2 linked regions of the Homo sapiens genome follow. The gene in region 2 interacts genetically with the main gene of each other region. Each region holds a gene or a part of one and is shown on either strand. Other genes may lie near its edges. The genes, in order: SOX10 and PAX3.

What was found.
Region 1: of PAX3 (region 2) and SOX10, changing one enhances a phenotype caused by changing the other (phenotypic enhancement), as found in Homo sapiens cells (one study listed by BioGRID).

The regions. Positions count from the first base shown.
Region 1 is NC_000022.11:37,971,740-37,974,789, forward strand, and holds the end of SOX10 (transcription factor SOX-10), read right to left. Parts: intron 2,460-3,050; coding exon 1,756-2,459; 3' UTR 573-1,755; downstream 1-572. UniProt on the Homo sapiens protein: Transcription factor that plays a central role in developing and mature glia.
Region 2 is NC_000002.12:222,225,996-222,233,301, forward strand, and holds part of PAX3 (paired box protein Pax-3), read right to left. Parts: intron 6,289-7,306; coding exon 6,083-6,288; intron 1-6,082. UniProt on the Homo sapiens protein: Transcription factor that may regulate cell proliferation, migration and apoptosis. Involved in neural development and myogenesis. Transcriptional activator of MITF, acting synergistically with SOX10.

The sequences.
Region 1 (3,050 bases), on a different chromosome or scaffold from region 2:
GGCAGCACGGTGTCACCCTCAGCCCACCTCCTCCTCTTCAGATACCTGTCTCTTGAATTCTTTGCAAACTCCCGTCTGCTGAGTGCTGGGTGAGCAGAGGGGCTGCTTGCAAGGCAGTGAGTTCTAGCTGAGCCAGTTAAGAGTGAGTGGCCCCCCTGCAGTGTGGGGCATAGCCGCCGGGCTGGGGAGAAGTTCCCATCTGAGGCTTCAGTCCCTGAGCTCAGATGGACCCCACTGGGATGCCAGCTGTCCTAACACTCTCCATTGTTCCCACTTTCTTAGCAGGGAGAGAGACAGAAAGAGAGAGAGGAGAGTGGGAGGGGGGAGAGAGAGAGAAAGGAGAGGGGGAGGGGGGAGAGAGAGAGAGAAAGAGAGGAGAGAAGGGAGGGGGGAGAGAGAGAGGAGGGGGGAGGGGAAGGGGGTGGGGAAAGAGGGAGGGAGGTGGGAGAGAGAGACCTTTGATGATCTATCCTTTGCATTCTACTCCTAGCTACTTCCAGAAAGCATTTGAGGAAGCACCAGTACAGGGATAAGAGATGAAGAGACAGGCCAGGTCAGGCTCACCAAGCAGGTAACCGGAACCTTTAATTTTATTATGTGGAATGCTTAATGCAGAGTTAATAGGGGCTAGAGTGGCTAGGAGAGGGGACTACTGAGATAAATAACAGGAGACAGTAATGAGTTACATGTGGATTTGGGGGGCTGCAGAACAGGAAAATAGGGGCAGATATAGCTACATACTTTATTCAAATACCACTGGGAGGCAAGGGGTAAGAGGCAAGGGCAGAATGTACAGGTCAGGATTCTAGTGTCTTCAGCCTGCCGACAGCAACCTGGGTGCTGGGCCCTGTGTCTCCTGGAGCCAAGGGTTAGGGCCTGAGCAGCTGTCACTCTCTGGGAAGCCCAGGGAGTGGGGCTGACTGAGCAGGGGCCATAGAGCCTAGTAAGGGAAGAGGGAGCTGGCAAGGAGCCCAGGGAGGGAGGCTCTGTGAATTGTCTCTGATTCCTTTCCTGGAGCCCCTGCCTCGTCACCTCCTGGGATGCGTCTCAAGGTCATGGAGGTTGTAGTGGAGGAGGACTGGGGGCTGTTTCTCAGACAAAGAATGAGGTTATTGGCACAGAATTGGATCAGGGGGCCTCTGTGCCAACTCCTTCCTGCCTTCAGAAAGGGAGGGGGCATTGAAGGGATGAGAACTCCACTAAGTCCCTCGAACCCCCCACTCCCCAATGAGGCTCCTCAAAGCTACTCTCAGCCCCTGAGTGGGAGACACGGCCAGCTCCGGGCACAGTCTCTGGGTGGCCTAGCCCTTAGGCACTGTGGCATAGGTGGCATGGGCATGTCAGACCCTCACTATCTGTGAGAGAGAAAACAGGAGTCATAGGAGTGGTAAGGCCTCCGATGCCACCAACCCTGGTGCTTCCCCTCCCCGAGGAGGGTGAGCAGGCCCTTCTCAGGTCCTGGGATAGAGGGTCATTCCTGGGGGAAGGTGCAGCCCCTCATCTTTCAGTGTGGGTGCAACAGTCAACCTCCTTCTCCTCTGTCCAGCCTGTTCTCCTGGGGCTTTGCTGCTGGAGCCTGGATGGGGCGGGTGGGTCATCAGGGCAGTGAGCCAGACAGAAAGCCCCCCGACCTGTCAGCCTCTTCAGCCTCCTCAGCCTCCTCCACTGCCACCACCAGGCCTGAGGTGGGCAAGGAACAGGGCACACAGGCTGGGGGCAGGGGCTGGGCGGGGGGTGGTGGCGACAGGGCCCCCTTTAGGGCCGGGACAGTGTCGTATATACTGGCTGCTCCCAGTGTGTGGGGCTGTGGGACTGGGGCCCTGAGGGGCTGGGGTCAGAGATGGCCGTGTAGAGGGGCCGCTGCGAGGGCCCCATATAGGAGAAGGCCGAGTAGAGGCCAGAGGCCTGGCCCGAGTGGCCATAATAGGGTCCTGAGGGCTGATGGTCAGAGTAGTCAAACTGGGGGCGGGAGATGGAGGGGAAGGCTGAGCCATAGTGGGGCAGGCTGAGGGAGGTGTAGGCGATCTGTGAGGTGGATGGCTGGTCGGTGTAGTGTGGGGGCCCCTGGGGCCCCGCGGTCTCTGTCTTCACCTGGGCTTTGGCATCCACACCAGGTGGTGAGACCGTGGGCAGAGCCACGCCTGGTGGCTTGGAGATCCAGGCGGAGTGTCCACTGGCCACGGCCAGGGCACTGCCCAGCCCATAGCCGGCTGCTGAGTAGCTGCTCACATGGCCTGGGTGCCCATTGGGCGGCAGGTACTGGTCCAACTCAGCCACATCAAAGGTCTCCATGTTGGACATTACCTCGTGGCTGATCTCACCAATGTCCACGTTGCCGAAGTCGATGTGAGGCTTCCCGCCCTCCCCCATGGAGCGCCCGTCCCGCTTCGGGTCTGCCTTGCCCGACTGCAGCTCTGTCTTCGGGGTGGTTGGAGGGGTGGGTGGGCCATGGCTCTGGCCTGGGTAGAAGGGAGACAGAGAGAGAGAGCGCAAGGGGGAAGCAGGTTAGAGGCAGGTGGGCGCACGTGAACTTCCATGGTTCACCTTCAGGCAGCGGGTGCCTCTGGGAAAACCTTGTAAGTTTCACATTTTGGCAGCATGAGTCGGGTTTTTTTTTGTTTTTTTTTTTTGAGATGGAGTTTCGCTCTTGTTGCCCAGACTGGAGTGCAGTGGCGCCATCTCGGCTCACTGCAACCTCTGCCTCCTGGGTTCAAATGATTCTCCTGCCTCAGCCTCCTGAGTAGCTGGAATTACAAGCGCCCACCACAATGCCCAGCTAATTTGTGTATTTTTAGTAGAGACGGGGTTTCACCATGTTGGCCAGGGTTGTCTTGAACTCCTGACCTCAGGTGATCCACCTGCCTCGGCCTCCCAAAGTGCTGGGATTACCATCATGAGCCACTGCGCCCCACAGCATTTGTTTAAATACTGGTGTCTTAGATTGATCTCTAGTTGTTTATGAAATTCTCAAATCTTAGGGATGGGTCCTGGGGAGGCCTGCCTCATTCTGAAAAAACCTTTCCTGTGGAAAGTTCTTCCTCTCATCAGCT
Region 2 (7,306 bases):
GATTAGTGCTAATTGTCCCTTGGTGTCAGCCTAATTTTGCCCATCAATAAATTACTGGTTCACATTTTTGGTGGTGTTCTCAAAGGCAATTCAGCCTACATTATTCAAGACGGATTACTTCAAATGCAATTTGAAAAATGGGGAGAGAACATAATAGTTAATCCTTAGAAAGAGAATTCGCAACAAGATTGTAAAACGTTTGGTTAAATACTAGACTCAGGATGTCGAATGCTGACATGCCAAGTACAGTACTTTCCAAGTAGGGAAATTCAGGGCAAGCTGCTCATTTCCCTGGACCTTCTCCTTCACTCTCACCTCCTTTCTCTTTCTATGAAAGGTTCTCCCAGCCTTCCAATCACTGCTGCTATCCAACTTTGGCCACCATTTGGAGAGCAGGTTGGAAACAGGATGGGCAAGATTGAACAGGAGGAAGGCCATGCTCCCATGCATGTGAAAAGACCATGGACACACACAAAAGCACACTCAACTGCATCTTGATACCTCCCAAAAGCAAACTCCTGCAGAGAACTTCAGGATGAACATATGTTTGCTTCATTACGGAGCTTAGGATATTCTATACCTATCTGAACTTCTGAACTATACAGATCAGTTAGACGGCTTCAAATCATCATGGTGCTTTTTTAGGAATTCCAAATTACTGATGCTATAAGGATTCTGCCATATTCTCATTCCCTTTCTCATTCCCAAGGGTCCTGAGAAATTATGCATTTGGGTCATTCCCAAAATGCATGATTTCTCAGGACCCTTGGGAATCACCATTGTTATTTTTTGGGAATCCTAAATTACTGATGCTATAAGGGTCCTGAGAAATCATGCGTTCTACTAGTTTTTAATTTGGGCATGGGAGAAAGGTATTTGAGCACATAATGAAAGCCAGAGGCCCTTTCTCTAGTTAACAGTTGTATATACACATACACAAGCAAAGGAGCAAAATTTTGTGTACAAATCTCAAATCTCCCAGATCTCCTGAAGTCCACCCATGATTATCCTGGTGGGGCATGAACCCCAGCTGAGATCATGTGATCTAACCAACCCCATATTTTTTTAAATTAAAAAAATTAAAAACCTGAAGTCCAAAAGGATTCCAGCAAGATTAAGTAACTTGCTCAACAAAACACATTTGTCAACTGGGAACGAAACCCATATCATCTGACTCCTAGTTAAATTCTATTTCCCCTAGTAACTTGTTTTTCTGTCTTCCATTGTCTTCGTGGTAAAACAGGATGTTACTTGCCTACTTCATGGGATTCTTAGATGGAATATTTACTAAAACTTTTGCACATCATAAATATTTGGGCCAGACATAGTGGCTTACACCTGTAATCTCAGCACTTTGGGAGGCCAAAAAATAGGAGGATTACTTGATTCCAGGAGTTTGAGACCAGCCTTGGCAACATGGTGAAACCGCATCTCTACAATACAAAAATTAGCTGGGTGTGGTGGCACAAGCCTGTAGTCTCGGCTACCCAGGAGACTGAGGCGGGAGGATCATCTGAGCCCAGGAGGCAGAGGTTGCAGTGAGCAGAGATCGCACCACTGTACTCCAGTGCACTCCAGCTCAGGCAACAGAGTGAGACCCTGTCTCAAAAAATAATTAATTAATTAATATTTGCAAGTAATTCCTCCCCACAAAACTTGAATGTTTGTCATTATTTGCATGATATTAATAACAGCTACCCTCATTACAGATGAATTAGGCAAATCATCTTTTTTAAAAAAAAAAAAAACCTTGTAGTGTTATTATTACTAGGCAAATAGTCGTTAGTATACAACAGTTCTTACATTGTGTACTCAGATTTGGTTATGATAAACTCAACACAGCTACAGCCTAAATGAATTTATATAAAACACTGACAGAGGCTAAAGTTATTATAGCTTTAGTCCCATTTCTATTTAGAAGAGTGTAGAAATATTTTTCCTCAGGAGAAAAAAAATGAAATGTAGACATGATTTGGGGTTTGGGGGGTGTTTCGTGTTTGGTTTTCCCAGGTGCCCCAAATTAAACTAACTCACACTTTCTGGCTATCACTCAAACTGAGTTGACTTGGCTACTGCTTTCCCAGATCCTCTAAAAACTAAAGGATTTTCTTCTGGCATTTTAATCAGTGATTAACTACTCCCTTCTTTTTCCTGCTGGGTTAAGTAAAAGATCCATATGCTGGGTGTTCTAGGGAATTTGTTAGGCTATAGATCACAGCCGTGGTGCCAGCCATGATGTGTCTCAAGGGAACTAAAGAAGCCATAAGGAATGTCAAGAGTCACCGGGTTAAAGCCACATTAAGACAGCTGTTACGTTAATGAAGGCCCTGCTTCGAAGAGGAGGTCACTATATGGAAAAGTATGAACTACTGTTTATTGGTTTGATCCCATGTCCTCTGAAAGTTAATGGGCCATTATTATTATCCTTTGACATTCATTGAGCCAGATGAGAATGCTGGGTGCTGTACAAGCTACATGGGTTTGAAATATATTCTGTCTCCATCCTTAGTTTTGACAAAGGCAGGAATGAAAGAGAACAACACCGAACACTCCTCAGTTTTCCATCACACTCCTTGTCTGATCTATTTACAATAAATGTTTATTTTTCCTTACTCACATTGAGTTCAGAGCTGATACTCGGCCTATTTTAAAAATAGATCTAGTGCCAGTGGCTCACACCTGTAATCTCAACACTTTGAGACGCTGAGGAGGGAGGATCACTTGAGTCCAGGAGCTCAAGACCAACCTGAGCAACATAGCAAGACCCCAGCTCTACAAAAAAATAGAAAAATAATTAGCCAGACATGGTGGCACACATCTGTAGACCCAGCTACTCTGGAAGCTGAGGTGGAAGAATCACTTGAGCTTGGAAGATCGAGGCTACACAGTGAGCCATGATTAAGCCACTGTACTACAGGCTGGGCAACAAAGTGAGACTCTGTCTCAAAAAACAAACAAACAAACAAACAAAAAAGCAGATCTAGTAGGTGGGCTTGGCCAGTTACAGAGGACAGGTACCAAATCCTGGAATATAGTGGCCACTCAAAAGAGGCATGATTGGACCTCACATAACATTTGCAGGTAATTGCAGAACTATAATAAAAGCAAAGTAGATTTGAAACATATTATTTATAACATTGTTATATATAATATACTATTATATGATTTAATTTGTCTGCCCTTTTGATTGTGATACAGATTTTTTCTCTGCACTGTTATATTAATATGCATGTTAATATCATAACATTGATATAGTAATATTAATGTTATGTTAATATAATATTTATATAGTATTATATAATATTACTATATCAATACTGTATTAAAATATTTTTCTATTGAAATATTATGACTTAGTTAATAAAGGTTATTTCTACACTGTGTGGTGGGGAGAAACACTCTGTTTCCCAATGATAATAGGTTTCCCAACTTTAAAACACCAGCTCTGTGAACCTTGGTCTATCTACAACTCTTCCTTTCACTCACCTTCCTCCCCACTTCTAGATTACACAATCGGTTGTCCATTCTACCTCTGAATACCTTCACCACCATCTCTTCCTTGCCATTCCCACTGCCACTACCTATCTCATGCCATAGCCCCCACTCCCTGTCACATCAAATGTGAGCTCACTGGCCTGAAACCCAAGACCTCCATAGGATATCCTCAGCCTACCTACCAAACCCTATTTCTTCCACCACCCTACCACTCCTTACATTCTAATCAAACTAACTATTCTCCCAATATGACTAGAGTGAAAAAGAAAGGTTATCTTACGTGTAGCCCACCACTTCTACCTCTCTGTGCCTCTGCTCATATAATTCCCTATTACTAATATACTCTCCTTATGCACCTGGTCCAGTGAATATCTATCTAGCCCGGAAAGTTCATCTTAAATCTGCCCTCTGGGCCCAGCACAATGGCTCATGCCTATAATCCCAGCACTTTGGGAAGCCAAGGCAAGTGGATCGCTTGCACCTGGGAGTTCAAGAAGAGCCTGGGCAACATGGCAAAATCCCATCTCTTCAAAAAATTATCCAGGCATAGTGGCATGCACCTGTAGCCCCAACTATCTGGGAGGCTGAGGTGGGAGGATCACCTGAGCTCAGGAGGTGTAGGCTTCAGTGAGCTGTGATTGTACCACTGTACTCCAACCTGGGCTACAGAATGAGACCCTGTCTCAAAAAAAAAAAAAATTAAATCTGCCTTCTTCATGTACCTCTCTTCATTCCTTCAAGATCTCATCCCTTGAGTTCATGTCCTTTGCAGGGACATGGATGAACCTGGAAACCATCATTCTCAGTAAACTAACACAGGAACAGAAAACCAAACACTGCATGTTCTCACTCATGAGTGAGAGTTGAACAATGAGAACACATGGACACAGGGAGGGGAAAATCACACACCAGGGCCTGTTGGGGGGTGGGGGGCTAGGGGAGGGATAGCATTAGGAGAAATACCTAATGTAGATGACGGGTTGATGGGTGCAGCAAACCACCATGGCACGTGTTATACCTATGTAACAAACCTGCCCCTTCTGCACATATATCCCAGAACTTAAAGTATAATTTTTTAAAAAAAGGTTGGGCATGGTGGCTCATACCTGTAATCCCAGCACTTTGGGAGGCCAAGGCGGCCAGATCACGAGGTCAGGAGTTCGAGACCAGCCTGACCAACATGGTGAAACCCCATCTCTACTAAAAATACAAAAATGAGCCGGGCCTGGTGGCAAGCACCTGTAATCCCAGCTACTTGGGAGACTGAGTCAGGAGAATCGCTTGAACCCAGGAGGCAGAGGTTGCAGTGAGCTGAGGTTGTACCACTGCACTCCAGCCTGGGTGACAGAGTGAGACTCCACCTCAAAAAAAAAAAAAAAAAAAAATCTCATCCTTTCCTCTTCTCAACTCCCATTGCACTTTTTCTCTTTCTGCACTTATCATGTCTGTGTTATTTTTAAATTATTTGTATGTTTATTTTTTTACCTTTCTTAGATTGCAACTCCTTCAGAGAACTGTCTTAATTGATCTTAGCATTCCTTGACTTTCCTAGCACTATGATGATCATATGGAAGTTTGAAGAAAACAATCTCTCTGACTGAGCTCTGCAGCCTGGAAGAGGCTATTTCTGTAAAATTCTGTAATAGGAGAGTTAATTAGCTGCATCTATGAACGTGTTGATCAATCTAGGGACCATGTCAACTGACTAGTCCACTGCTGAGTCCCCAGCCTGCAAATTAAGAATCTGGAAATAACACACAATATTTGCAGACAAGGTGACTTAACTTCTAGGGTGGTGAGGAGTTCGAGGATACCCTACGATATCTGCCATCTTTCAAACACTGTTTTACTAGCTCCAGGAAGTAGTTCTTCATTAATGATGAAAACATTATTCTATACTCTATAGAAACATATTACATCTAAGTAGCCTTTCCAGAAGGTTCAGAGCACCTCTAAGAGTTCAAAAGATAATTCAACATGTTCTTTAAGTAATATAATTTCTTGAAATGCTTCTTAATTATAAAATCGTTAAATGAAGGAATTTCATGTTATGCACCTTTGCACATTTTCATAATTGAAAGGTCACAGAGATGAAGCGTATGGGATCCAATTATCTCTAGACTCACTTTGCAGCTATGCCACCTTGGGTAGTTACTTATATAGTCCAAGTCTCAGTTTCCTTATTTGTAAATGGAGAGTAGCAATCATGGTACCCACCTAGGATTTTAATAATGATTCAATGGGTTAATTCATGTGAAGCACTTAAAATAGTGGCTGGGACAGAGTAACCACTCAAAATTTATTTGCTCTTACTTGTGTATCACCCCCAAAGTCCATATAGTGCTGGTGTACAATAAGGATTCCTGAAAAGTTGAGTTAGTCACATGAAGTGGTGGACTTCTGTGTGTCGTAAATGATATAGTTGTATTCTGTCAGTAAATAATCAAAGTCCTAACAATATGCATCCCTAGTAAAGGGCCATTCCTAATACATTTTTGGGGGGGATTGACATATGTTTTAGATGAGAAGATGCTTGTTTGTTTCCTGTCTGGACTGAAGTAGGACACGGAGGTTTGGGCAACAGTACCTGTACTCGGGCCTCGGTGAGCTTCGCCCTCTGGGCCAGTTCCTCCCTAGTATAAATGTCAGGGTAATGAGTTCTCTCAAAAGCACGCTCCAGTTCCTCCAGCTGTTCTGCTGTGAAGGTGGTTCGGCTTCTGCGCTGTTTCCTCTTTAGTGGTAAATCTGGTTCAGAGTCAATATCAGAGCCTTCATCTGATTGGGGTGCTGAGGCTAAAAGCACAGAAGAACAAAACATCATAAAATGTGAATCAAAAAAATAAAACTGAGATTGAATCCAAGTTCTCTCTCCGACTGCAAGACACCATTACAGTGATCCCTATACCTAAAGTAAAATAAATGTGGATCAAAAAACAAGTCTAACCAATCCGTAATAATTCAAATCCTGGTCTACAGTGCATTCCCAATGTCTTCCATGGACACCAAGCACCCCGCCCCCATGCAGTCCTGCATCATTAAATAATATTTAATCTCTTCTCCTACTCTATCTTTCTGCCCCCTAGGCAGAAATAATTGCTCATAGCATCTGTCATTCTAGGCCAATTATGAGCTCTTAGAAAACAGGGACAGGCCTTATTCCATTTGTATGGCCCTATGCTTACTACTTAATGGGTGCTTCCTTCGTGTCTAATGAATGGATCACATTGAGTTTTGTTTCTGATAAATTTTCACCAACATTTACATTATGAAATCTGTTAAATGTGATTTTTAAAAATATTCCAAACTTGACTTAGTACCTAAGAAGCGAGTAACAGTTAACTATTCCCAGATTCCTATATATTTATAGACTACTGCTCTTATAAAAAATTATATTTAAATCAGTATCTCATCACCAGATATGGGGAAATGCTTTAAAGAAAATGTATGTACTATTAAAATGTAAATCTCTAGAACTGACCTGAGAAGAAGCAGGCAGGCATTGTCTTGTGAACTGTCCCTAACTAGAGTCTGGGTCTCTGCTGAGTGGGCATCTGTCCAGGACAGCTGCTTTATTTAAGAAAGCCAATGCAAAAAAAAAAAAAAAAAAAAAAAAAAAAAGTATGATCCCTTTTGTAAAAAAATATTATGAGTTTCAAGAAGGCAACAACAGATCATTAACCCAATCCCAGGGCCTTCTGAGTGTGTGGCCCTGAGCAACTGCATAAGACAAAAATGTCCCTGAAGCCACTGTGTGGTGGCCTAACACACACAAAACTTGTGTGTATTTGCCTGTACTCACATGTGGAAGGGA